2 linked regions of the Homo sapiens genome follow. The protein of the gene in region 1 interacts with the protein of each later gene in a pairwise test. Each region holds a gene or a part of one and is shown on either strand. Other genes may lie near its edges.

Region 1 (3,500 bases):
TTTACATTGACAAATCATGTTACTGCTATTTCTGCTCTATCAAAAACTACAAGTACCAAGTGGGGAGGAGAGGGAGTTTGTGAGGGATGGAGTGGAGGAGGGGAAAGAGAATTTTAATAGTTAGAACATATGAAGTGGAAAGAGTCCTGTACTTGGAGTCAGAAGACCCATATTCAAATCTGGCTTCTGCCAGTTACGAGACCTTACCTTGGGAGAACTTGACTTAATATCCTGCCCTATCTAATTAAAATAAGATGAAATGAGAATTGAGCAGTCTTTGCTGTGGGAATTGTAAAATACTATTTGGACATAAATTAATGTAACTATTGCTTATCACAAGTGTCAGTGATTCTGCTCCATAATTTTTCAGCCCTCCTACAGTGATATTGCTGCCAATCCAAAGGTATTAAAATGGATGACAGAGCTTACAAAACTGCGGAAGCAAATTAAAGGTATATTATGTGCCATTTTGTAATATATTTGCATTTTAAAAATTTTTTTATATTAATGTCTGAGAATCACAAATACAACTTTTGATAATTTTAAATCTTGGGCACTGTTTGACAAAAATAAAAGTTACCTTTTTTTGTTTTATTAGGGTCAAAATTGCATACTGTAGTACTGTGTTATAGTACAGTACTGTAGTTCTGTATTATATTTTAAATGTCTTTTTTGTGTTTTTATTAGTAATATCTTTTTGAAAGATACCTGAGATTGTATATTAATAAGTGAACTGATGTTATAAAGTTTATCTAAAATATATTTCAGATATTAAGCAGCTTTGAGTTTTGTTGGATATTTCATTAAGATTTTTTGGTAGGTATTTTCATCTAAGACTAAGAATGTCTAATCACAGTGACTCGTTTATACCACAAAGACTAAATTGTAACTCTTGAATGATAAACTAGGCATTGCATTTCTGGGTGTCAAACCAGTATAGTAATTGTTGAAGTATATTTAGTTTGTGGATGTTTAGTGAGTATGTGTTTTAATAATTATTACTTTAAAAATTATGCAAAATAGGGGTTTATTATCTGGAGCATCACTTTGGTTTAAATTTACTCAATAAAGTTTTTATTTTTATTTTTATTTCTAATTTTTTCGAGACAGAGTCTCACTCTGTTGTCCAGGCTGGAATTCAGTGACGCCATCTCAGCTCACTGCAACCTCTGCCTCCTGGGTTCAAGTGATTCTTGTGCCTTAGCCTCCCGAGTAGCTGGGATTACAGGTGCACGCCACCAAGCCCAGCTAATTTTTGTAATTTTAGTAGGGATGGGGTTTTGCCATGTTGCCCAGGCTGGTCTCGAACTCTTGGGCTCAAGCGATCCCCCTGCCTCAGCCTCCCAAAGTGCTGGGATTATAGGTGTGAGCCACTGCACCTGGCCTATAAAAATAAAAAAATATATATTTTTTATTTTTTTGAGACAGAATCTTGCTCTGTCATCGAGGTTGAAGTGTGGTAGCATGGTCATGGCTCACTGCAGCCTTGAACTGGTGAGCTCAAGTGATCCTTCCACCTCAGCCTCAAGAGTAGCTAGGACTACAGACATGCACTGCCACACCCAGGTAATTTTTTAAAATTTTGTATAGAGTTGGGGTCTTGCTTTGTGCCTGGATTGGTCTCAAACTTCTGGCCTTCAGCAGTTCTCCCACCTCGGTCTTGCAAAGTGTGGGGATTACAAGTATGAGCCACCGTGCCCAGCCCAGTAAAGTGTTAAGTATTTCTGAGGTACTAAATACTTTGTAGACAACTAGGGATATAGCAGTGAACAAGACAGACAGAGTCCCTGCTGTCATGGAGTTTATATTCTTGTGGTTAAGATAATGTTTGCCTCTCTCTCTCTCCTTTTTTTTTTTTTTTTTTTTTTTTGTTTGAGACAGGGTTTTACTCTGTTGCCCTGGAGTGCAGTGGCACGATCTTAGCTCATTGCAGCTTCCACCTCCCGGGCTGAAGCGATCCTCCCACCTCAGCATCCCGAGTAGCTGGGACTACAGGCACATGCCACCATGCCCAGCTAATTTTTTTGTATTCTTAGTAGAGATGGCATTGCACCATGTTGCCCAGGCTGGTCTCAAAACTCCTGGGCTCAAGCCATCTGTCTGCCTTGGCCTCCCACAGTGCTGGGATTACAGGCGTGAGCCACCTCACCCGGCCAAGATAATGTCTCTTAACTCCTCTTTAGAGTATCACTTAATTTTCCCCTATACTTCTGTTAAAGATTTCCTTGTTTAATGCCAATTTCCAGTCATCAGTGAAAATTATTACCTTGATTTTATTAGTAGTTGATACCATTAAATTGTCTAGCATTGGCCTCCTAATTTTCCCATTTTCTTTCACTTTTACTGCTCTGTAGTCCGTCTGCTGCATGGTAGTCAGAATTATCTTTAAAAAAGTCATGTTAGCCTGGGTCCCAGCTACTCTGGAGGCTGAGGCAGGAGGACCACTTAGGCCTAGGAGGTCAAGGCTGCAGTGAGCCATGTTTGTGCCACTGTACTCCAGCCAGGGTGACAGGGCAAGACCCTGTCTCAAAAAGAAAAATAAATAGTCTTACTACTTTCTTTTTCAAGCCCTTCAGTGGGCTTCCACCTAGAATAAAGTCAAAACTCCTTACTGTGGTTTTCAAGGCCTTGCACAGTCTGCCCTTGGCCGATTTTATCACTTTCATCTCTTTTCTGTTCCTCAAACTTGCCAAGCTTTAGGACCTTCACACTGGCTATTGCCTCACTGGGGACAGATGCCCTTCCACTAAATCCTTTGTGCTAGACAAGCTCCTTATTCCGTATTCTACCAGGATGATACTATTCAGAGAGGTCTTCTTTGTCAATCCCGTCCAATGTAGTTGTTCCTCCACAAATTATACTCCTTTTAGCGCTGTGACTCTACCCTGTTTTACCTATAGATCATAGCATTCTTTAAAGTTATTTTACTAATCTGAGTATTTGGTTATTGTTTTCCTTCTCTGAATATATGCTCCACAAGAACAGGAACCATGTCTGTTTTGTTTTCTTCTGTATCTCCCATGCCCATCAGAGCATTTTATTCAATAATAGGCTCTCTATGGATATAAAAATAATAGCTTGTTCTCTCTTTTTTTGTTGTTGTTTTTGTGTTTTTTTGAGACAGGGTCTGACTCTGTTGCCCAGGCTGCATTGCAGTGGTGCAGTCTCAGTTTACTGCAGCCTGAGCCTCCCAGGCTCAATGTGGTCTTCCCACCCCAGCCTCCCAAGTAGCTGGGACTTACAGGCATGTGCCACAGTGCTCAGCTTTTTTTTTTTTTTTTGAGACAGAGTCTCACTGTCTCACCCAGGCTGGAGTGCATTGGCTGATGTTGGCTCACTGCAACCTCCGCCTTCTGGATTCAAGTGATTCTCCTGCCTCAGCCTCCTGAGTAGCTGGGATTACAGGTGTGTGCCACCAGGTACAGGCACATGACACCACACCTGGCTAACTTTTGTATTTTTAGTAGAGACGGGGTTTTGCCATGTGGACCAGGCTGGTC
Region 2 (3,500 bases), on another chromosome or scaffold:
TAGAAACTCTCTATCTATCCCAATTAAAATATAGTCCAGGGCCGGGCACGGTGGCTCACGCCTGTAATCCCAGCACTTTGGGAGGCCAAGGTGGGTGGATCACCTGAGCCAGGAGTTTGAGACCAGCCTGGCCAACATAGTGAAACCCCATCTCTACTAAAAATACAAAAATTAGCCAGGCATGGTGACATGTGCCTGTAATCCCAGCTACTATGCGGGGCTGAGGCAGGAGGATCACTTGAAACTGGGAGGCGGAGAATGCAGTGAGCCGAGATCGTGCCACTGCACTCCAGCCTGGGCAACAGAGCGGGATTCTGTCTCAAAAAAAAAATTCAAAGTTAGCAGGGCATGGTAGTGTGTGCCTGTAATCCCAGCTACCCAGGAAGCTAAGGTAGGAGGACCACCTGAGCCTAGGAGTTTGAGGCTGTTGTGTTGTGTGCTATGATCACACCACTGCACTCCAGTCTGGGCAACAGAGTGAGGCCCTGTCTCTTAAAATAAATAAATATATATATATACTACATTACAAAAGAGTATCACTTAACTATTTCTTTGATTTTAATGACTAGCAAGTTCTTCTTTTTTTTTTTTTTTTTGAGACAGAGTCTTGCTCTGTCACCGAGGCTGGAGTGCAGTGGTGCAATCTCAGCTCACTGCAAGCTCCGCCTCCCGGGCTCATGCCATTCTCCTGCCTCAGCCTCCTGAGTAGCTGGGACTATAGGCGCCTGCCACCATGCCCACCTAATTTTTTTATTTTTAGTAGAGACAGGGTTTCACCGTGTTAGTCAGGATGGTCTTGATCTCCTGACCTCGTGATCTGCCTGCCTCAGCCTCCCAAAGTTCTGGGATTACAGGCGTGAGCCACCGTGCCTAACCAATGACTAGCAAGTTCTTTAACCCAATATAAATGAAATAAAAACCTTAATCAAGAAGTTACCACTTAGACATACACACAAATATCTATATGACGATTACATTCATCTAAGTTGCAATTATGACTAAGTCATCCATTAAAACAAAGAATCTACCCAAGTTTTACTAAACAGAGAATAATGTATTTTCTTCCAACTGCCCAAGAGTTTGGTTAAATGTGAGTTATACGAGTTAACAGGCAAAGCTAAATGTCTATCCTTAAGAATAACTATAAATAAAGATTACCAGTAGATAGCAATATGGATTACAATGGAATAAGCCATTGTATTCACTAAGTCTACTTCTATAGACTCAAAAAGAGGTACAATAAATGTAAGTACAGCAGTCAAGGAAGCAAAAATATCAGGAGAGCCAAATTCCTTTGAAATTTAACAAAAACAACAAATGTTCAGCAGGTCACATACAGCTGGAGACAGAAACAAAAGATAGGACAGCTGTGGCTGACCTAGTCCAGGGCTTTTTACCTGAAAGCTGGGGGCTTTTATTCCCCAAGGAACTGCTTCGACTAGATTTGCTGCCTTTGCTTTTAGTGGGTCGTCGTCTTCTCCCTGAAAGGGGAGCAGCTGGGGGAATAATAACAGCAGGGGGCACCTTGCCCAGTTTGGTATACAAAGATTCAATTTCATGCTTCTGGCGACTCTGCAGGTCCTGAATCTCTTTGAGATGTCTGTGAAAGATAACCAAACATAATTCAAAATACCATAATCCTCTTCATTCAGACAAGAATTAACAGCATATTCCTAAACCTGCTTTCAAGTATGTAGTAGTTACTAATGAACCTTTTCCCCAAATGTACTACCACGAGATTCTAGTTTGTCAACTCACCTTGCTGGCCTGCATTACCCAAGCCATGTTCCAACAAGCTCCTAGCCAACAACAAATGGTTGATAATGTTTTAGGAGAAAAACATTTCCTGACTTTTGAGGCCACGCACACAATAGCTGAATTTGCTACTCTGACCCAATCTGCCAAACAAAACGTGCCAAATAATCATACATCCCAGTGCCAGATTCATTTAGTGGACTAATAAATAAAGAGCAGTTAATAGTGATACAATATGCTATTAATAAAAATAATAATACAATACAGTAACAATAATACAGTAATAATATAGTAACAATGAAGAAGTTCTAGAACTAGAAATGCTATGGGTCTGTATGAGTGCAAGAGAAGCTGCCTGTGCCTGTGAGTCAGTGGTTGGGAATCGTGTGTGTGTGTGTGTGTGTGTGTGTGTGTGTGTGTGTGTGTGTGTGTGTGTGGTGGGGAGGTATGGGGTGGGGCTTCTGTGGCACTGTCTCTTTAAAAGAAATGAGACATTAGCATATTGTGGCGAAAAATATTATTAATCTTGGCCCTGGGATCTAGGTCTGAAAACCTTATCTGACATTCTTTCACAAGAGAAAATATACTTACTTATCTCGTAGTCGTCGCAGCTCTAACTTTAAGTCTTCATCTTCGATATCTGACTCATTGTCGCTACTCATGTAAGAGGAGTTAAATGAATTACTAAGGCTTTGACTTAGATTCTGGCTAGGAAGGCTCTTTGAGCTCAGCTGATGGGGCGAGTGTGGACTACCGGAACCATCATCCACATCCCTACTTAAAAAAGCGGCCTCCGGGTCAGAAGACGGCCCATTTAGATGTGAAGGCTCTGACAGTTCAGGCTTCTCTTTCTTTGGTATCACAGCAGGAAGAACAGCTTGTTCCAAATCCATAAAAGGAGGAGATGCCACTGGTCCTTCTTTCTTTGTGTCAGTGATCTTGTCCTCAGTTTTTGATACAGAGAAACGACCCACTTTGTTTGCTGTAGTTGTCACCTGAAAACGTCCAACCTTGGTAGGCTGCCCAGTGTCTGACTTTGCCTCTGAGGCAGTAGTTTTGTGGGCACTCTCTGGCACATCTGAAGAGATACCAGGGATGGTTATGCCATTCGGCTCTGGTTTCACCAAGGTACTCTCTGGACTACTACTTGATAGCACTGAGGACTCTGAGGTGCTGGATTCAAAATGAACAGACTTTGCATCTTCTGACTTATTTTTACCCTCTTTCTGGGCACCGTCTGCTGCAACAGAAACCTGATAAAAAAGGACAAAGATTAAAAACTTAAGTTCTCAATATCCAATTTCTATCACAGACAATTTAAAAAAGGAAAAAAAGAATCACTTTATTTCCCTGTCAAAGAGTAGGCTGATTGTCTCTTTACATAGCGCCTCCACTTTTGACTAGGAAGAAAAATTGAATACCATCATAGAGAACACATGGGTACTGAGATGCAGATTCTGTGTGGCTGGCTACGCTTATAAAGTAAATAATTTACTTTCGTATTTGATGTCATACACAGAATTCAGATTTATGTCTTAGTCAACATATACATAACAAAAGGTCAGGGCCAGGCATAGTGGCTCATGCCTGTAAGCCCACCATTTTGGGAGGCTGAAGCAGGTGGATCACTTGAGGTCAGGAGTTTCAGATCAGCCTGGCCAACGTGGTGAAACCCTGTCTCTACTAAAAATACAAAAATTAGCCAGGCATGGTAGCGTGTGCCTGTAATCCCAGCTACTTGGGAG

Evidence for each region.
Region 2: the proteins of FAM13B (region 1) and WNK1 interact in a two-hybrid assay, tested with the Homo sapiens proteins (one large-scale study listed by IntAct).

The regions. Positions count from the first base shown.
Region 1 is NC_000005.10:137,949,580-137,953,079, reverse strand, and holds part of FAM13B (protein FAM13B), read left to right. Parts: intron 1-370; coding exon 371-452; intron 453-3,500.
Region 2 is NC_000012.12:895,579-899,078, reverse strand, and holds part of WNK1 (serine/threonine-protein kinase WNK1), read right to left. Parts: intron 3,009-3,500; coding exon 2,347-3,008; intron 1,601-2,346; coding exon 1,398-1,600; intron 1-1,397. UniProt on the Homo sapiens protein: Serine/threonine-protein kinase component of the WNK1-SPAK/OSR1 kinase cascade, which acts as a key regulator of blood pressure and regulatory volume increase by promoting ion influx.